Homo sapiens: one gene and its partners. The protein of the gene in region 1 interacts with the protein of each later gene in a biochemical or structural test. Each region holds a gene or a part of one and is shown in the gene's direction. Other genes may lie near its edges.

Region 1 (8,081 bases):
ATTCTTTCCATACTAGGTAGATTAAATTTAAACAACTAGTAAGATAGCAAATCAGTTAATAAATTCTTTAGAACTTAACATATTTGGCCAGGCACAGTGGCTCACGCCCAAAACTTTGGGAATCCAAGGCAGGAGAATTGCTTGAGCCCAGGAGTTTGAGACTGGTCTAGGCAACATAAGGAGATCCTGTCTCTAAAAAAAAAATTTTTTTTTAATTAGCTGTGTGTGGCCAGGCGCAGTGGGTCATGCCTGTAATCCCAGCATTTGGGAGCCTGAGGTGGGCAGATCACTTGAGGTAAGGAGTTCAAGACCAGCCTAGCCAGCATGGTGAAACCCTATCTCTACTAAAAATACAAAAACTAGCTGGGCATGGTGGCGGGCACCCTGTAATCCTACTACTTGGGAGGCGGAGGCATGAGAATCGCTTGAACCGGGAGGCGGAGGTTGCAGTGAGCCGAGACCACCACTGCACTCCAGCCTGGGCAACAGAGCAAGACTTTGGGCTGCTGGTTGCCCATTTTTATGGTTATTTCTTGATGATATGCTAAACAAGGAGAGGATTATTTATGCTTCCCCCCTTTTTTTTTTTTTTGAGATGGAGTCTCACTCTGTCACCCAGGCTGGAGTGCAGTGGCACGATCTCAGCTTACTGCAAGCTCTGCCTCCTGGGTTCACACCATTCTCCTGCCTCAGCCTCCCGAGTAGCTGGGACTACAGGCACCTGCCACCACGCCTGGCTAATTTTTTTGTATTTTTAGTAGAGACGGAGTTTCACCATATTAGCCAGGATGGTCTCGATCTCCTGACCTCATAATCCGCCCTCCTCAGCCTCCCAAAGTGCTGGGATTATAGGCATGAGCCACCGCGCCCAGCCTATGCTTCCCCTTTCTAGATCATATAGGGTAACTTCGTGACGTTGCCGTGGCATTTGTAAACTGTCATGGTGCTGGTGGGAGTGTAGCAGTGAGGACGACCAGGGGTCACTCGTGAGCATCTTGGTTATGGTGGGTTTTAGCTGGCTTTACTGCAACCTGTTTTATCAGCAGTATCTTTATGACCTGTATTTTGTGCTGACCTCATATATCATCTTGTGACTTAGAATGCCTTAACCATCTGGGAATGCAGCCCAGTAGGTTTCAGCCTCATTTTACCCAGCTCCTATTCAATCAAGACGGAGTTGCTCTGGTTCACATGCCTCTAATACTGCTATTTCAACTGAAAGCCTAACTCCTGATAAGTACGCACTCTGAATCATCATTCAGCTATCTTATTTACCATAGTTGTGAAATTAATTAGAAAAAAAACTGAAAGTGCATAAGTGCGTGCGTTGTTTGTTTTTTGTTTTTTTTTTTTTTTGAGACGGAGTCTTGCTCTGTTGCCCAGGCTGGAGTGCAGTGGCGCGATCTTGGCTCACTGCAAGCTCCGCCTCCCGGGTTCACGCCATTCTCCTGTCTCAGCCTCCTGAGTAGCTGGGACTGCAGACACCCGCCACCATGCCCAACTAATTTTTTTGTATTTTTAGTAGAGACAGGGTTTCACCGTGTTAGCCAGGATGGTCTCAATCTCCTGACCTTGTGATCCGCCCGCTTCAGCCTCCCAAAGTGCTGGGATTACAGGCTTAAGCCACGGCACCCGGCCAAGTGCATGCTTTAAATGTCAGTTCTAAAAAGTAAATCTGTACAAGTATTTAGGACTGAAATATACTGATGCCTGCAACTTTGAAATGCAGCAAAAAATAAGAATAATGAATGGATGTGTGAGAAAGCAAATATAGCAGAATAAGAATTATAGAATCTAAATGTTGGGTATATGGGTAGTCACTGAACAGTTTTTAACTTTTTTTGGAAAGTTTGAAATTTTTCATAATAAAATGTTTGGGAAAAATAAACCTTATCTAGAATTTATAAGGAATATAATAGCTACACAAGTATTCTCATTAGATCAAAATATGAAATTTGACCTATCTTTTCTGTAAGTCAGAAACAGATTAATGTAGACTATTTCAGTTGGTTCAACCTAGTCCTAACATTGTATTTTATTTTTCTGATGACTGAAATTGGATTAATTTAAAATGTGATTCACCATAATACTGATTAATTATGCTGATGTAGCTATTCTTATTTACGTTTGTGTTAAGAAAGTATGAGACTAAAGAGTCTCTAAATATTCTGCCAGTATTTTGTTGCTAAAATGATACATTCCATTTCCTAGATGTATACAAATATGTCCACAAAATTACCTCAGTTGTGGGGAAAAATATATACTAACAACATCTTAACCAGCCTGTGTGCTAGTATACTTACCAATTGAAATTTTATGCAAAAATCATAGGTTAGAACCCAGTCCTACTATGGGTAGTCTTGGTGGTTGCACAACAGTATGAATATACTTACTGCCACTGAATTATACACCTAAAAAATGGCTAAAATGGTAGATTTTATGCTATGTCTATTTGACGATAAAATTTTTTAAAAAAGAACAAAGTATTTTTGGACAACCATAAGACAATGTGAAGGCCCAGACAGCTTAGCTAAAGTGGGTCAAAAGGGTCAGAATGCTAAACAAATGCTACCTACGTTCTAATTTTACTTAGATCTTATGAAACCTGACTGAATTTGAAAGCTGAATAAAACAACTATTTTGGATATTGATGCCCTGGATTCAGTTCAACTTTTTTTCTGTTCTAATTGAAAAATTGTAATTGGAGCACACAATTGAAATTCATGTTGTTCCACAAGGACTGGAGAACCTCACCCATCTATAATACCTGAGTATATAGTCTTTCCCACTGAGCATAGTTAAGCTAGTTGTTCTGACAGAAGCCACTTATCCAATTAATTAAAAAGTGCACAGTAGGTAACATGCTTTAATTAGCAGTTGTTTCCACTTGTACAAGTTCTAATGGAGGGGAGGAGCGAAGGGTCTCATTGAATTGAACTGTATTTGCCCTGATGGAAATCGATGTCAAAACTTGTGTTAATTGGGAGAAAAACTGAGGAATTACAACCTAATTCCACAAGAAAAAATTACAATTCATGAAGTACCCTTAAAAGCAAAGTGGGAAAATGTTTTAAAATTACCGATCTCAATAGAATTTTATTTTTATTAATATAAGCACCCCAGACTTGATACTTCTAGATTTCAGATTTCAAGCATACACGCCCAAATTTATCATATTGCTATTCTAAAAAAAAAAATCTTGATATATTTATCTCCTTTGTGCTTTTTTGAAAATGTAATATTGTTTTCTCTCATGTTTATACTTTACCGGAAAGAAAAATGGGTTTTTTTTTCCTCAGCTGAAAAATGGAATGAGACTGTATGTGAAATCACTCGTGTAATACTTTGTTTTTCCAAGTTCAAGGGATTGGTGGTGGTGAACTGGGGAGAACACTGAATTTAATATATTACTGTGCTTACTATTCCTCAAAGAATTATTAGGTCTTATAACAAAAACAACTTGAGGTTTGTCTCCTTGCACTCTGGTTCATTAGAGAAGGTGAAGAATTACTGAAAAGATAGAGGAGATTACATAAAAACAAAGTTCAGAAAACATAAGTTCTGTAGAGGAAGACAAGGAAAAACAGAAAAAGTAGAAACTGCTCTAGTGGGAATGTATTGGTTGTTTTGTCTCCTTAGTCTTTTAATATAGGACAGAGATTCTGTAATATAACATAGCAGGCTCATCCCATTAAGTAAGAGCTGCAGTATAGAGGAGGCTGGAGTCCTAAAGATATAAATGTCATCCTTTTCTCTTTTAATTTACAGAAGTTGCTGGGTTTGTTTTGCTACTGATGAAGATGATAGAACAGCTGAATGGGTGAGACCATGCAGGTGCAGAGGATCTACAAAATGGGTTCACCAGGCCTGTCTACAACGCTGGGTGGATGAAAAGCAAAGAGGAAACAGTACAGCCAGAGTGGCATGTCCTCAGTGCAATGCTGAATACCTAATAGTTTTTCCAAAATTGGGTAAGAATATCTTTAAAAACAACACAGATATAGTTGATGTTATTATATATAACTTTATAAGTTCATTTTAAAATGAACCACCTCTTTTTTTTAGGGTGTGAATTTCTATATTCCCTTTCTCTTGTTTCCTCTCTGAATGTCAGACATTTATTTCTTTTGCTAACAGTTTACAGTATCCTTAATATATCCCCAAATTTATCCATTTGCCTGTGTATTAACTGTCTGTTTGATAGAAAGGAGAAAGAACTTGCATACCTGTGTGGATATAATTGAATAACAAAGCTCTAATAAAAAGCTGACTTTTAAAAAAAAAACTAACTTAGCTTAATTATCTGGAGACGGTGTAAGAGAAAGAAAGCAGTAGTATGTTCTAATACTTCTCCTTAATTCTTCCTTTTAAGGAATAAAAGTAGAGAAATTAAATATTTAATAAGATGTGACGTTAAACTCATCTTTGGAATCCAATTTATGTGGTTTCTTTCATGAACCCTGCTATCCCTTTTCTGTGAAGTGGCAGGTAAGAAATAACCAAAGATCTTTGAGAACAGGCCTAGCATGGAAAAAAAGTATAGCAGACTGCTTACAAGAAGCATTCTAAGGCTGCTTCTTTAGCAGCAGTATAACTAAGGCTGATATTTAGTGAGCCTGTTCCATTACAGCCATACAGTTATAAATTGGTGTCAATCTCTTGGTTTGGTGTTTATACCATGCCAGTTGTTAAACATTTTTTTATAACCCTTGACTGTAACCAAGAGGTATAGGAAGGCAGCTTGGGTTCTGGGAAGGTCATAAGGAAAGAATGTCTTTGGGGGCAGAGGGAATTCAGGAAAAATTGGAAATAATTATTATATATATTGTTTTTTATAAGTGCTATTCATACTGAAATCAGACCAATGTTTTTGAAAATGTGGCAACATAAATGCAGATAATGAAGTGCTTTTCTAATATGAGAAGATTAATAATAAGGGCAAACAAAATGTCCTTGGTTCTCTGTTTTTCTCTAACATGCACAGGAAGAAATGATAGCTTCCTTTGAAGGGGAAGTAGTGTAGTAGAGAAAGTAGTGTTTTCAAACATTTGGAATTTGTGGACCATGTGATGGGTCTTCAGTGCATACCACTGATTTTAGATAAACACAAAAGAATAATTCAAAATGTTTTTATTGTAAGATCAAAGAAGTATTTTTAAATCAGTATCAGGAAAAGCAATGATTGTTCACATTATTGTACCACCACATGAATGGTGAAAGACTCACTAAAGTCCAAGTTAAGGTTTCATATTTAACTGATTTCTTTTCTTGCTCTTAGTTGTACTAAATTAGATAGCCCCACCTTTGAATTATAGAGTTGGGAAGAGCAACAATTAAATATTTCTATTAGATGTTTTAGATATTCAAATGGACACAAAAATTATTACAAGAATTCTCACTGAAAACTACATCAAGTTGACAAGTGTATGGCACTCGAAAGCAAAGTTGAGTATTTTAATTTTGGAGATGGCAATGTGTAGATCTGTCCTTTTGGTTGAATTCAGTTCTAGGAAATATGTTTTCAGGTTTAGTGCAGTAATTGAATATGGTTTTAAGTCTACCTAGTTGTTAGAAAAGAGTAAATCTTGGCTGGGCGTGGCGGCTCACGCCTGTAATCCCAGCACTTTGGGAGGCAGAGGCGGGCAGATCACGAGGTCAGGAGTTCGAGACCAACCCGGCCAATATGGTGAAACTATGTCTTTACTAAAAATACAAAAGTTAGCTGGACATGGTGGCGTGTGCCTGTAGTCCCAGCTACTCAGGAGGCTGAGGCAGAAGAGTTGCTTGAACCCAGGAGGCAAAGGTTGCAGTGAGCCAAGATCGTGCCACTGCACACAAGCCTGGGCGACAGAGCCGAGACTCCATCTCAAAGAAAAAAGAAAAGAGTAAAACTCTTTGGTTAAGCCATTTGTATCATTATTTAGTCTGCATATTTTGTTACTAAGAATTGTGGCCGGGCCGGGCGCGGTGGCTCACACCTGTAATCCCAGCACTTTGGGAGGCCAAGGCTGGCAGATCACGAGGTCAGGAGATCGAGACCATCCTGGCTAACACAGTGAAACCCCATCTCTACTAAAAATACAAAAAAATTAGCCAGCCTTGGTGGCAGGTGCCTCTAGTTCCAGCTACTCGGGAGGCTGAGGCAGGAGAATGGCGTAAACCCGGGAGGCAGAGCTTGCAGTGAGCCAAGATAGCGCCACAGCACTCCAGCCTGGGAGATAGAGCGAGACGCCGTGCTAAAAAAAAAAATTGTGGCGGGTCACAGTGGCTCACACCTGTAATCCCAACACTTTGGGAAGCTGGGGCGAGTAGATTGCTTGAGACCAGCCTGGGCAACAGGGTGAAACTCCATCTCTACCAAAAATAACAAAAAAAAATTAGCTGGGCATGGTGGCACACACCTGTAGTCCCAGCTACTCAGGAGGCTGAGGTGGGAGGATTGCCTTAGCCTGTGAGGTGGAGGCCACAGTGAGCTGTGATTGCGCCACTGTACTCCAGCTTGGGAGACAGAGTGAGACCCTGTCTGAACAACAAAAAAGAATTGTGGCCAGTCATGGTAGCTCACATCTGTAATCCCAGCACTTTTGAGGCTCAGGTGGGTGGATTGCTTGTGGTTACGAGGTCAGGATCAGCCTAGGCAACATAGCAAAACCTTGTCTCTCTACAAAAAAGAAAAAGAAAAAGAAAAAAAATTAGCCAAGTGTGATGGAGCACACCTGTTGTAAGTCCTAGCTACTCGGGAGGCTCAGCTGGGAGGATCACTTGAGCCCAGGAGTTTGGGGCTGCATTGAGCTATGATTGCGCCACTACCCTCTAGCCTGGGTGACAGAGTGAAACCAATCTTAAATAAAAGAGAGAATTATAATTTTACTCTCAAATGATATGTTCAAGCTGGTCACTATACTGTCTGTCATAGAGGTATGGCACTTGAGTTAGCCGCTTAAAATCATAGATATGTTTTAATGACATCAGTGTTATAAAAAAAAATGAATATCCGCTGGGCACGGTGGCTCACGCCTGTAATCCCAACACTGGGAGGCCAAGGCAGGCGGATCACCTGATATCAGGAGTTCAAGACCAGCTTGGCCAACATGGTGAAACCTTGTGTCTACTAAAAATACAAAAATTAGCCAGGCGTGGTGGCAGGCGCCTGTAATCCCAGCTACTTGGGAGGCTGAGGTAGGACAATCACGTGAACCTGGGAGGCAGAGGTTGCTGTGAGCCAAGCTCACACCATTGCACTCCAGCCTGGGCGACAGAGCAAGACTCTGTCTCAAAAAAAGAAAAAAAAAAGTATATCCTTCATTTGAGTAGGTATTGTTAGCATATTTCCTCTTGACAAAACAGAAAAACAGAGTATTTGCTGCTGCTGCTTCCCCCCGCCCCCCCCCGCCAATAGAGGTTGGGTCTTGCTATGTTGTCCAGGCTTGTCTCAAACTCCTGGGCTCAAGCAATCCACCTACCTTGGCCTCCCAAAGTGCTAGGATCACAGGCATGAGCCACTGTGTGCCCAGCCTGCCGCTGCATTCTTAACATGCTGAAGATACCTATTCAAGGGCTGCAATTTTAATTATATTCACAATTTTCCATGCAGTTATTAACAATGACTCAAGCCAGCTGTTGTCTGTAAATGAAGCCATGTGTGAATTGGCTTTCAGGTGGTGGGCTCTTCATTGCTGCACACAAAGCTAGTGCTCTAGCTATGCTGATTCCAGCACAACTTTTCAATTCAAGTTTCAAAAATAATTGTTGGTTAAAAGAAAATATCTTCTTCTAAAACTTTTAAAAAGTTGCTTGTATTTCTTGATTAACATGTTACATTCGTATATACTAAGAGTTGATTCGTACTCTGTACGCTAGTGGCTTCATGCAGCCATTAAACAAAATACTTAAGAGCCTGCATCTGTGATAATAATTGTTCTTCCTCTCTGTATAACACACGTAGCACGTAATGTCCGATAGTGTCATCTGATGATAGAATTTTGCCAGTAGATTGTTTTGTTTCTGTCTGAGCACATTTGTCATTAATTTTGCAGCTGACAGTAGTTGAATCTGTTTTGTTAAAAGAAGTACCTTTGACT
Region 2 (8,081 bases), on another chromosome or scaffold:
TTCTTTTGTCTGTCTTCATCATTAACAGGCTTTTTCCTTTGTTACTCTTTTTCCATGTGTAAATGTCCCCTTCTTGTGTGTTAATATTATTATTATAAGCCTTGCCTGGAATAATGATGGTTAAAATGCAGGTGGATGCAGACAAGACTTCTTTCTTTTGTTCGTTCCCAACCATTGTCCATTTTGTGTGAGTTTATGTATGCAGTGGACAGTGCCCCTGTTTGTGTGTTATTCAAACATGTGGCAGTACAAATATTTGTGTCTCTAAGGAGTCAGATGTGAAGTGGGTGGTGATGGTGGTAGTAAATTTCTGTGTGTTTCTCTGTTAACCCAGGAAAGTATAAATACCATGAGTAACATATATTTATAGCACCTACAGAAGCGGCTCAAATTATTTCTGCAGCAGGTGATACCCTGTCGGTCCCAGCCCCTGCAGTTCAGCCTGAGGAATCTTTAAAAACTGATCACCCTGAAATTGGTGAAGGAAAACCCACACCTGCACTTTCAGGTAATTTAATTATTTCTATTTGTTCTTTTATACATGATACACTCATCAGAACTATTTAATGCCTAGGCAACACGTAGACACTAAGTATACATTTACACTAGGTTTAGGTCTTCAGAGTTTCTTAGGAAATTTTTAAAATTTAAATGTCCGAATGTATCTTTTTAAACAAGAAGATTAAAGCCTGATTCCTATTTCTTCATTTTGGAATCATTAAGAGTAATGATATGGTTTTAGAATTCTTAACACAAAAATGCCCTGCATTGATATAACTGGCCAGTACAAACGATGCTTTTTTTATATCCCTGTTAGCTATTAAAATTCTATGCTGAAATTTGATTTCCTCTTATTTACTTTTGCTGCAAGAAGAAGCATCCTCATCTTCTATAAGGGAGCGACCACCTGAAGAAGTTGCAGCTCGCCTTGCACAACAGGAAAAACAAGAACAAGTTAAAATTGAGTGTATGTAAACCAGACAGCTTCTTAAGGATTTTGGGTCATCTCCCAGTTGCTCTCTTCTTAAACTATCAGCACAAGTTTGTCATCTATCACCTAGTTGTGGTTTCTTTTGTTGCTGCGGTTGTTTTTTAGTGGCATTGCTTTATTCATCACCTTCATTTCATCTAAACTTCTTTTACCTAAGTGACAAAGGCTATTCTTAGTGTATAGTTGGTGAAAACTCCAAATAATACTAAAGATTATGTTAGCGCTAAAGATTCTTTATACTCTGGGAAACAGAAATTGATTATTTATGTTTTAGCAGCTTGCCTAAAAGTCCTTTATTTATTTTTTTGAGATAGGCTCTTTTCTGTCACCCAGACTGGAGTGCGGTGGCACTGTCATGGCTCACTGCAGCCTCAACCTCCCAGGCCAAAGCCATCCTCCCACCTCAGCCTCCTCTGTAGCTGGGACTACAGGCGTGTACCACCATACCCAGCTAATTTTTTAAAAATTTTTTATAGACACAGGCATCTCACTATGTTGCCTAGACTGGTCTCGTACTCCTGGGCTCAAGTGATCCTCCCACCTTGAACTCCCAAAGTGCTGGGATTACAGGCCTGAGCCCTTGTACCCAGCCCTAAGAGTCTTTTATTAATAATTGTTAATTTATACTTGTAAATAATTGTTTATTAATAATTGTAAATTTATTTGTTGGAGTCAGAATGGCTTACACTGCCTTATCATCTAGCCTCTGGACTCTCTAGTAGTGCTTTTATCTGACACTGGTGGGGCATGGAATGTTCTACACATCGCTGGTTTCCAGCTAACAAGCATATTCCTTTTTAAGTTTCAGTTTTATGGTTTTTTTGTTTGTTTGTTTTTAAGAGATGGGCTCTTACTGTGTTGGTCAGGGTAGTGTTGGACTCTTGGCCTCAAGAAATCCTCCCACCTTGGCCTCCCAAAGTGCTGGGATTACAGGCATGAGCTACCACACCTGGCCAAGTTTTTTTTATCATTATTATTATTTTTGCTGTCCTCGGTAGGTCAGGATTCTTAAATTTTTTGATGGTTTAAAAAAGATAATAGATATTTATCAATTTATTTTTCTGTCTTAAAGCACATGTAACATAATTTTTTGTACTGTGCTATAATATGTTGATGTCTCTGGAGGTCGTGGGATGTAGCTTTTTGCTGGACAGAGAGTTCAGTACTCATGGCAGCTGTTTATAGTTTTTTGATCTCCTTGTCATTTGTTTTGCTCCTGTTTCCCTTGTAATGTGCTGGTTCTGCCCTACCCTGAGGAACCAAGTTTCTTAGAATAGCATAGGTGTCATTCTGTGCCTATGGCATTAGTTTTCCTACTTGGATTTGGATTTTCGTTTTTGATTTTTTGTATTCTTCTGATTGTGTTACAAATATTTGTGAATATTTAATAAATGACTTCTAACTAAGTGAAATATTTCATTTTTCCTACTTCTTTTTTCTTTTAGTCCTGTTTTTTCTTCACTTTTCACTTTTCTCTCTTTATCACTTGGGCACCTTGAAATTAAGTTATAAACGTAAGATGGAGATGTCTGCTGTTCCAGCTGTTCTTTTCCTTGCCTGGTTCCTCTCATCTTTCATTTTGGGCAAAGTGAAAATTTTCAGAATTTTATCTGTCACCTCTTAATTCCCCCTCAAACTTGACTTTAAAAATATACACATATGCATTTGCATGTGAAATATTTATCAAGGATCAAAGGACAGTGACTAAACCTCTGAAGAGGGCTGGAAGCAGCAGGTGCCTCCCAGCAGCCCACTTTCTGTGGCCTCCATAAAGTGGTTCACAACTGCCTGTACTTGATGTCCACTGTTCACTCACGCATGTCATGGGATCCAAATACCACGGTTTCTCTCCCTTGCCCCTTTCTCTTGTTGTATCCCCTGCTCTCATTTCACTTCTATCACTTCTGTCAATTTCTTTTTATTTTCTCCTTATTAGTTTTCCTCTTATCTTTCTTGCAGAGGTACCATTTGTAGTTCCTCAGATTCCATTTGTTCATTGCTAGTTTATGCTTCTTTTCCTCAAAATCATCTTTTTTTCTCGCTTGTCAAATACATTTTTTATTTTTTGTCATGTGATATCATTTATTTAATTAATTTGTTTTGAGACAGAGTCTCACTCTGTCACCTAGGCTGGAGTGCAGTGGTGCAATATCGGCTCACTACAACCTCCAACTCCCAGGTTCAAGCGATTTTCCTGCCTCAGCCTCCTGAGTAGCTGGGACTATAGGCACCCACCACCATGTCTGGATAATTTTTGTATTTTTAGTAGAGACGGGGTTTCACAATGTTGGCCAGCCTGGTCTCGAACTCCTGACCTCAGGTGATACACCTGCCTCGGCCTCCCAAAGTGCTGGGATTACAGGCGTGAGCCACTGCGCCGGCCCATTTATTATTAAATTAGTATTCTTACTAGCCGCCTTTCTTCAAATGACCATTTATTTTTGCATTTTAGTAAATTATCTAAAATTGTCATTTGCTTTACTTTTTGGTATTCCCGAAACAGCATATAGAAATGTGATCTTAATAGATGGAAGCCTCTTGAACATTGGTGTCTGCTATTTCTTGAGTCCTTTTATGGAAGAACACTGTCCATTTCAAGTTGCCTTTGGGTTTTGTTTTGTATTTTTTGACCTGTTTTCTTATTTGTCTTTTTCTTTCTCTTGTCTGTTTTCTTGTATCTTGTCAACATAAGTGTTTTGCTATGAGTATTCCTTCTTGCCAAGGGGATGAAATGGGCACCTCTTTTTCCCTGTTACGATTGTTGTTTAAAATGAAGAAAGCTGATGGATTTGTTGAGTTTATAGCCACAATATGTAAAAGGGGCTATAGTGTCCTAAACCTTGTTTCTCCCATTTGAAATACATTACCCTTCTTTAAATAATTTTGAAAAAAAAAAACACTTTTTATTTTGAAAAAGTTTAGATATACAGAAAAGAAAAAGTAGGCTGGGCACGGTGGCTCACGCCTGTAATCCCAGCACTTTGAGAGGCTGAGGTGGATGGATCACGAGGTCAGGAGATCGAGACCATCCTGGCTAACACGGTGAAACCCTGTCTGCTAAAAATACAAAATATTAGCTGAGCGTGGTGGCAGGCACCTGTAGTCCCAGCTACTCAGGAGGCTGAGGCAGGAGAATCGCCTGAACCCAGGAGGCGGAGGTTGCAGTGAACTGAGACGGTGCCACTGCACTCTAGCCTGGGCGATAGAGTGGGACTCCGTCTCCAAAAAAAAAAAAAAAAACAAAAAACAAAAAACCGGGCACGGTGGCTCACGCCTGTAATCCCAGCACTTTGGGAGTCCAGGGTGGGCGGATCATGGGGTCAGTAGATGGAGACTATCCTGGCTAACATGGTGAAACCCCGTCTCTACTAAGAAATACAAAAAAATTAGCTGGGCGTGGTGGTATGCACCTGTAGTCCCAGCTACTCGGGAGGCTGAGGTAGGAGAATGGCGTGAACCCGGGAGGCGGAGCTTGCAGTGAGCCGAGATCGCGCCACTGCACTCCAGCCTGGGCGACAGAGCGAGACTCTGTCTCAAAAAAAAAAAAAAAAAGAAGTGTAATAAAGCTTCATAGATTTATCATCCAGACTAAATTATCAGTATTTTACCATGTTTTCTTTTTTTTTTTTGAGAGAGTCTCGCTCTGTCGCCCAGGCTAGAGTGCAGTGGCATGATCTCGGCTCACTGCAAGCTCCACCTCCCAGGTTCAAGCGATTCTCCTGCCTCAGCCTCCCAGGTAGCTGGAACTACAGGCACCCGCCACCATGCCTGGCTAATTTTTGTATTTTTAGTAGAGACGGGGTTTCACCACATTGGTCAGGTTGGTCTCAAACTCCTGACCTTGTGATACGCCCGCCTCGGCCTCCCAAAGTGCTGGGATTACAGGCATGAGCCACTGCGCCCGGCCTTTACCATACTTTTAAGTGAAACTTTGATTCCCTAAATTTGAGTCTCATGTATTTTGTTCCTTTTTAAATTTTTTGGGAAATGCAATGGAAGACTAGATAGGAGAACAGCAAAAGTTTAAAGTCATTTATGGGGGTAGGATTTGTTTTTTAACTGTTCTTTTTTTTTTTTAAGCTCTAGCCAAGAGCTTAGAAGATGCTCTGAGGCAAACTGCAAGTGTCACTCTGCAGGCTATTGCAGCTCAGAATGCTGCGGTCCAGGCTGTCAATGCACACTCCAACATATTGAAAGCCGCCATGGACAATTCTGAGGTGAGCCCAATGAATGATTAGAAGTGTTCTGGCTGTCATGACTTGGAGGACAAAAAGAAAAATCGAGGGTGGAGAGAAGTGTAATATTTAACAGACTGCTTTCTTCCGTATGATATCGGCTTTCTCTCACTAGGGGAAGATAGTCTGGAATAATTAATCTTTTTTTGTTATTGTTTTGAGACGGAGTCTTGCTCTGTCGCCCGGGCTGGAGTCCAGTGGTGCGATCTCGGCTCATTGCAACCTCCACCTCCCAGGTTCAAGCGATTCTCCTGCCTCAGCCTCCCGAGTAGCTGGGATTACAGGCTCCCGCCACCATACCCGGCTAATTTTTGTACTTTTAGTAGAGACAGGGTTTGCCATTTTGGCCAGGCTGGACTGGAACTCTTGACCTCAAGTGATTTGCCTGCCTCGGCCTCCCAAAATGTTGGGATTACAGGCGTGAGCCACTGTGCTTGGCCTTAGAGTAATTATGTTTAAAAAACAAACTGAAAAAAGCCTTTAAGTTTTTTAGAATGAATTTTATACATTGTGCTTTACTATATCTTACAACACCGATGCAGCGCAAGAATTAGTTCAGATTTGCTTTCATATTTTAATAGCACTTAAATATTTTTGTTGTTTGCTTTAAAATTGCTATTTCCATAGGTAAACTTTTTAAGATACTTCTCAAACTTCACATGCAGTTTTAAGAAATAATACAGAGAGCTCTCATGTTCCCTGAAACACCTGCTATTTTAAATGTTTATGATTATTTATGCGAAACACTTCAAAGAATGAAGTAATAACATTGATTTTTCAAAATTTAATACTGGGACTTAATACATTATTTTATAATTACATTAAGTTATTCAGTATGTATAAATGTATCTCTATTCCAAGTCATTTAAGGAGTAAATTAAAGTAAAATGCATAAATTATTAATCTTAAGGATCAGGATCATACATGGTCAGTAAAGTTACTTTGCCATCATAATTGTAGTTTTAAAAAAAATTTTACACACACTTTACATTGTTTCAGTCGTATGTACTTATATTACAAAAGAGTTTAATTAGACCTCTGATGTTAGTAGCAAGAAACTACAACCTTTGAAATTTTAAGGAAAATTCCATTTTATTCAAAGTCCAAGAAAAATACTTAAATATCAGAGTTCAGTCAGCAAAGTGGAAACCACCCAGGAAATTTAATTTGCTGGTTACCGATATGGGAAGGCTAGAAGTTGCGTGATGTAAGGGTGTTGGGTTCAAACCCAAGTAGACCAGTATCCCTCAGAAGGACACGGATTGGAAGCTTTAAATGCCATGTTACTACTTGGGTATAAGGGTACACAAGGTGGTATTTCATCTTCCTAACGCACATAATGTGTAGCACATGGTGATTAGACAGTGTAAAATCTATTGCAGTCAAGATTTTACAATCTAATGGTAGCAGTTAACAGATGAGAGTATTAGCTAATGTACAAAATAATTGGAAAAATGTATGAACACATTTTGGAATGTTAAGAATGAATTCCAGCTTTTGTTTTTTCTAGTACAAGAAGCTACAGGTGCACATGTAATTTCTAATATATACTGAATAACTTTCACAAAGCAGTGTTTGTGAAGAGTTGGATTTGGTAATACTAGGATTTAGTTTGGTTGTAGGGGAATCTGTGTCTGTTACAGGGTAGGTTTTCCTTGGACTTCTGTAAGCAGGAGTACCTTCAACAAGGGTGATAAATTTTGGCCCCCAGATATGTCATTGACATTTACATGCTTTGTAATTCTATTTGGGTCAGTTCATGTGGCCCAACTCAGCATCCATTCCTTTTTTTTTTTTTTTGAGACAGAGTCTTGCTCTGTCACCAGGCTGTAGTGCAGTGGCGTGATCTCTGCTCACTGCAACCTCTGCCTCCCAGGTTCAAGCAATTCTCCTGCCTTAGCCTCTCAAGTAGCTGAAATTACAGGTGCCCACCACCACACCTGGCTAATTTTTGTATTTTTCGTACAGAGAGGGTTTCACTATGTTGGCCAGGCTGGTCTCGAACTCATGACCTCAAGTGATCTACCTGCCTCCACCTCCCAAAAGTGCTGGGATTATAGGCGTAAGCCACCATGCCTGGCCCCAAATCAGTATACATTCTTGATGTATTTTATTTTCAAGATGACTAAAGCGGTCCAGGCGTGGTGGCTCATACCTGTAATCCCAGCACTGTGGGAGGCTGAGGCTGGTGGATCATTTGAGGTCAGGAGTTCGAGACCAGCCTGACCAACATGGAGAAACCCCGTTTCTACTAAAAATATAAAATTAGCTGGGCATGGTGGCCCATGCCTGTAATCCCAGCTACTCGGGAGACTGACGCAGGAGAATCGCTTGAACCTGGGAGGTGGAGGTTGTGGTGAGCCAAGATCGAGCCATTGCACTCCAGCCTGGGCAACAAGAATGAAACTCCATCTCAAAAAAAAAAAAAAAAAAAAAATGACTAAAGTGGGAATTCACTGAAACATCAACTTTATTTTTCGCATCATAAGATATACTTTGCAAAATTTTACATAGAACATTCTTTTTTTTTGGAGATGGAGTCTTGCTTTGTTGCCCAGGCTGGAGTGCAATAGCGTGATCTCGGCTCACTGCAACCTCTGCTTCCCAGGTTCCAGCGATTCTCCTACCTCAGCCTCCAGAGTAGCTGGGATTACAGGCGCCCATCACCACACCCATCTTAGTAGAGACAGGGTTTCACCATATTGGCCATGCTGGTCTTGAACTCCTGACCTCAGGTGATCTGCTCACCTCAGCCTCCAAAATTGCTGGGATTACAGTTGTGAGCCACTGCACCTGGCTACATAGAACATTTAAAAAGCGATACATGAAGACAAATATTTCTTCTAAATGTATGG
Region 3 (5,584 bases), on another chromosome or scaffold:
AGCATGAGGTGTGGCATTAGGGACTGGTCAGCTATGCATGCTGGCAGGTGGGGTTGTGTCTGCAGGTCTCAGAAATGAAGAGGCTGCTCTGTTCTGGAGGCAGCCGTGGCCCAGTGCCAGTGGCCAGAACAGTGGCCTTTGGTGGGTGTGTCCCGGGCCATCTCGGGGTGGTGCTCAGGAGCGCCTGGGGCAAGAGGTAAAGAGTTCCCTGGCCTTCAAGGAGAGCAGCGAAGACCCAGACAGGGGCCAGCCTTCAGGACCAGAGGGAGGCCGCCGAATGGGACCCTCCTGGTCACCAGGAGAAAGCCCTGGGCCAGCGAGTAGGCAGTCAAACTCCTTCGTCCCCAAGGCCGGTGGAACAAGAGGCTCGTGGTGAGTCAGGGCCAGGGTGGGTGGCCAAGGCCAGGGTCACCGTGTGCTTCATGGGCCAGCTTTTTTGTTTTTCTTGGCAAATTTTAATAACTATATTTTGATTATACTGTAGAATGCTATGTCAGCATAAGTAAGCTAAACTTGAAGCTTTCTTGTGAAGAATAAATGCAAGATAGAATACATCTTCTATTTTTTGTGGTACCAAAAATCACCATCCCCTCAAGAGTGTTCATGTATAGAACATTCTCTAATGCTGAAGAGTAAAACATTATAGCAACACTATGTAAATGTATTGAACAGTATCAAAGAAATAGTCTCTAAATTGTTTGTACCATATTTTTTTTTCTAAACTTAACATAATTTTTAGCTTTAGTTTCAGTCAAAACTTTGTCTTTTCTCTCCCGAGAGCCTTAGAGGTTAAAATGCAATCAGCCTACCGTGTAAGGAGATGTTGTCCATGTACTTTCTCCAGCCAGTTGGGGGATCATTGCAGCTCAGGCCTGGTGAACTCAGAGATTCCATTCAGTATTAAGAATGGGATTGTTGAATTTTACTCACAGAGAAATCACTGTTTCTTCATGTTGTAAGATGTTTTCTGTTTGTGTATTTGTATCATGGTTACTCATCAAAAGCTCTCATTCTGCCTTTGTAGAATTCAGTTCCCTTCCTTTCATCATAGCTAAAGTGACTTTTTTCCCTACTATTAACGTGATCCTACATCCTTAAATCTCATCGATTACCTCACTTAGGCCTTGGAACCTTGGCCCTTGGTCGGTGTCCTTGGCGTCTTCTAAGCAAGGCTGTGCGTTGTTCAGAAACGTGGCCAGACCGCATTTCCTGCTGCTCCCATGCCGCATGCCAGGTGGCCTGAGACAGAGCTCCCCATACGGCTGCAAGGTGCTTTACCTGTGGGCTTTGGCAGTAACCCAAGAGAGGATCAGAAGGTGGAGAAGGTGCCACGAGTGATTTAACAGGCCTGCCACAGGGAGTGCCCCCAGCCCAGCTCGTTCTCAGCACAGGTTTTCTCTTTGGGAGTACCCAGGTGATTTCTAGTGACCCAATTTTGTGTCATCTCCCTGTTTTAGCCCCACTTGCCTAGAGACAACTGTTTCCGATGCCTTTTCTGCTTATCATACTAGTTTCTAACCACGCAGATTTCTCAAAATCATTTATTCAATGTATTTTATTTGAGCACTTAGTGTATTGAGCTAGGCAGGATATAGGGTGCCGGAGATACAGCGATGAACAAGACAGGCAAAACTTCTGCTTTCCTAAAACTTGTGATGAGAGAGAACAATAAAAAAGTGTTGCTGCCACAAAGAAACCAAAGTGTGTGGGGAAGGGCGCGTGTTTGCGGTTTACATCTCTTCTGTCCCAGAATCACAGGGATCTGGTCCGGTCACCTCTGGTCTTTCCTCTTAGTCGCCTTTAGGAGCCCTGGTTCCCGTCCATCCTCTGGGGGGTTTGTTTGAAGAGATCTCGTGTGGGTACTTGTCATGAAAACACCTTGGGCATCATCTGGTGTATCCAGTTCTAGTCTCGAGAATTCTGGTTTCCCACTGTGCTCAGCAAGTGGAAAGTTCTTTTCAGGCCAGAACAGCTCTGCACCATCACATATCGTGTTGCGGCTTAGCTGTTTGGTCTGTAGTTCAGGTTATGGGACTTCTCCAATCCTGGAAGGCTGTTGAGCTTTTTAGAAGTACTGTACGCTATCTTCAAGATGGAGCTTGGTCACATCTGTTAGGAATCCAAAGGACACTATGACTTATTTAAATCTTGTCTTACTAAACCTCTCTTGGGCACGTGTGCCAGAATTTCTCTTGTTGCTTCTTGAGTCTTTTTAATTTCAGTGTTTTTTCGTTTGTTTTTTGTTTTTTTGAGACAGAGTCTCGCTCTGTCACCCAGGCTGGAGTGCAGTGGCACGACCTCAGCTCACTGCAACCTCCGCCTCCTTGGTTCAAGCAATTCTCCTGCCTCAGCCTCCCGAGTAGCTGGGATTACAGGTGTGTGCCACCACGCTCGGCTAATTTTTTATATTTTTTTTAGTAGAGACGGGGTTTCCCCATGTTAGGCAGGATGGTCTCGATCTCCTAACCTCGTGATCCGCCTGCCTCAGCCTCCCAAAGTGCTGGGATTACAGGCTTGAGCCACCGCACCCGGCCTAATCTCAGTTTTTGAAGTGCTCCACAAGTCATTAGGCACCAAAACATTTTCACCTGGGGAACACTGGCATTTCCCTGATTAGCTGTGAAGCAATCTAGTGGCTAAGTGTGAAATCCTGGGTGCGCAGGTGTTCTCACTCCCGCCGTGTTCTCAGTGCAGTGGTGGTCAGAGGCCCTTCCAAGGAGACATCACTCTGATCAGTTACAGATAGATGTTCTGGAAGATCTGCAGGTGAGTAGATCCAGCAGAGTTTCTTCCCACCAACTCTAGAAGAAAGGGCCTTATCAGAGTTGACCCTGAGCCTTTGGTAAGGTTTTGTGTGCATGCGATTCAGTTATCTTTGGCAATTCTTTTCTTGCTGCAGTGAGAGATTAATTGGTTGCTGATCAAACCGTTCATGCAGATGGGGGGACCTTTGGATTGTACGGCTTTCTCCTCTTGGCTGCTTTCTTTTCAGGAAGTTGGACTTTGGCCAGGTTTGGCTTTCCCAGAGCCGTTCCTTTCTCTGTCCTTTCCTTGGGTCCTCATGGTGTGCCCATTGGATCCTTGGCCTTGTGATCCTCTGGGAACTGGGGGCCAGTTCCACTTTTGCAGCCTTCTGTGCTGGAAGAGAAGCCCAGCGCCCTGGAAGGAGCCTCTTTAAGTCCCCCATGTCGCTTTCTCTCTCTGCTCTTTTAGTGTCTGAGATTGCCTTTCTTTGAATTTCCCAGTGTTTCTTTTCCTTGTCCCTTCCCTCACCAACCTGGAGTTATTTTGGTTGACTATGTCCTGGCTTTGGCTTCTCCTGGCAGGAAGTCATCAGGCATCCTCTCCAGGTGAGCCGAAATTCCACCCTCCCAGGTTGGACATCATCTTTTAAACCCAATGGTCTACTCCCCTCCTTCTTTATGAAACAGTGATTTCCCGTGAGTAACTCTGGTTCTGATTTTTTGTACCGGCGCTTAAATTCTTTCTGTAGACGTTGGAAAGCCACAAAGAACGTGACTGCAGTGAGCCTCCCACTGGAGCAGCCTTAACCAACACTTTGGCCAAAGCCCCCCCACCTCCCCTGTGTACTGTGTGTGTGTTTGGTGGATACAGTATTCCTTTTCAGTGTCCCTAAAGCTGTGATGGGGAGTCCCCACTTACCTAGAAAGCATTACCAGTCACCTACTCTGCATTCTCAGATGTAAACCTTGTGTAGTGTTCTTTTTGCAATGACCTATTTATTTAACCTATTTATATTTATTTAATTTTTACTCTGAAATGTATCCAGTTACAATTGTACTTGCTTAAAGCACATCAGATTTGTTTTGGACAACACCCTTGACCATTTTAAAACTGGAAAAGTGATACTGTATCCTTCCATGGGATGGATGCTTTACAGTAGTCTTATTATTAAAGGGTGATTAATTTGGTCGGGGTAAAATGTTAATTTTTAGGTGATTTTTAAGAATTCTGTGCCATTATGTCTTCTGTGTGGATGGTTAATTGTTTAATTAGTACGTGTTAATTGTGTGATACAGTCTTCTTTGTGGAACCCAAAATCCTCTTTTTAGCTTTATATTTTATAAACTGCCAGATTGTACAACTTTTATGTGCATTTTTAAAGCTTGAAGACATGAGGGTCATTATCTAAGTTAAACAGCCTATTTTTGTGCCTCCTGTACAGTTTTATAATTCTGCTGATGGCGGCATCTTATGTCGAGCCAACCACAATAAAGGTAGTTTTAGATTTTGGAGTCAGTCTCATTTTCTTAAAGATTCAAATACCATTCTCAGATAGGCTGTGCTCACTGTCCTTCTGGGTGGCCGGGGCTGGATTATGAGGCCTTTGCAGCTGGCTCGGCTGGTGGGGGATGGGTGTCCTCATGTCCACAGCAGGGTCCGGGGACTGGAACACCCTCCATGGTGGCTGTGTGTCAGAAAAGCTTCTTTGAAACCTTGCAGGAAGTTCCCAAAAGTACTGATTTGGGCTGAATTCCAGGAAGGTGGCCAGCTGGGACAGTCATGCCACGTGGTGAGAATTGGGCTTCAAAGCAGAGTTTGGGGCATGTGTACAGTAGGTAGGATACCAGACCAGGAAACCCAGGAGGGGAGAAATGCCATTGAGACCAACAAGGGCTGGGAGTGCCCCCAAAGAGTGGGACAGCGGCGTGTGGAATGAGCTCAGCTGACGTCTGCTTGGACTTTGCAATCCTCCCAACACACCTGCTCCTTCCCCTGCACCCTCTCTATGGAGAAATCAGGTGAGGCTCCACTTGCTCTTGCAGTGCCAGGCCGGGGGCAGCTTACAAGGGAGGACCCCAAGGGCCCACCTGCCCCAGGACAGCTTAGCGGGGGCTGCATCCAGGCTAGCTCCTGCCCTCCGCAAGCTCCACCTGCCACCATCCCATCCTACTCGCCTCACGCCTCGCAGGGCACCAGGAGCGACCCTGAGGCCTCTGGACACACACCTCCTCTGAGATGCAGTCTTGGACACAGCCAACTCCAAGGGTGAATGAAGGGCGGTGAGGTGTTGTTGTGTCACCGGTAGAGGGTTGTGACTGCAAGTTGCCCAGGTTCTTGGCGTTTTGAACAAATAATTAGACAAAACGCCCAGAAAAGCACAGAAAGAATGAAGCAACAAAAGAACGAAAGGGATTTATTGAAAACAAAAGTAGGCTCCACAGTGTGGGAGCGGACCCAGGCAGCAGCTCAAGGGCCCAGATACAGAATCTTCTTGGGTCCAAATATCCCCTTAGAAGATTCCCATTGGCCACTCATGCTCACCTCAGGTAAATGAAGTGGTAGCCTGCAATCAGTTGGTTGCAGACAGCAGCCAACCAGAGGCTTAAGTGAAGTTACAAAGGTCACACCCCTGTGCGAAACATCTGATTGGTTGCCAAAAGCAACCAATCAGAGGCTAGGATGAAGTTACAAAGTTATACTTCTATGCAAATGAAGACTCAGTCTGCAATCAGTCTGATTGGTTGTGGACAGAAAAGATCAAAGGGAGTAGCCTCTGGTCCTTTTGTTACTTAGGCGTGGAAAGTTAGGGTTTTCCTTTCGATTTAGTTCTAGGAAGTCG

What was found. Proteins that work in one complex are often made in the same cells at the same time.
Region 2: the proteins of MARCHF5 (region 1) and IMMT form a complex in vitro, tested with the Homo sapiens proteins (one study listed by BioGRID).
Region 3: of the proteins of MARCHF5 (region 1) and ERN1, one has a biochemical effect on the other in vitro, tested with the Homo sapiens proteins (one study listed by BioGRID).

The regions. Positions count from the first base shown.
Region 1 is NC_000010.11:92,307,367-92,315,447, forward strand, and holds part of MARCHF5 (E3 ubiquitin-protein ligase MARCHF5), read left to right. Parts: intron 1-3,768; coding exon 3,769-3,971; intron 3,972-8,081. UniProt on the Homo sapiens protein: Mitochondrial E3 ubiquitin-protein ligase that plays a crucial role in the control of mitochondrial morphology by acting as a positive regulator of mitochondrial fission and as an important regulator of immune response.
Region 2 is NC_000002.12:86,163,635-86,171,715, reverse strand, and holds part of IMMT (MICOS complex subunit MIC60), read left to right. Parts: intron 1-334; exon of another isoform or gene 335-370; coding exon 371-508; intron 509-871; coding exon 872-967; coding exon of another isoform or gene 968-975; exon of another isoform or gene 976-2,403; intron 2,404-5,071; coding exon 5,072-5,208; intron 5,209-8,081. UniProt on the Homo sapiens protein: Component of the MICOS complex, a large protein complex of the mitochondrial inner membrane that plays crucial roles in the maintenance of crista junctions, inner membrane architecture, and formation of contact sites to the outer membrane.
Region 3 is NC_000017.11:64,037,814-64,043,397, reverse strand, and holds the end of ERN1 (serine/threonine-protein kinase/endoribonuclease IRE1 precursor), read left to right. Parts: 3' UTR 1-4,256; downstream 4,257-5,584. UniProt on the Homo sapiens protein: Serine/threonine-protein kinase and endoribonuclease that acts as a key sensor for the endoplasmic reticulum unfolded protein response (UPR).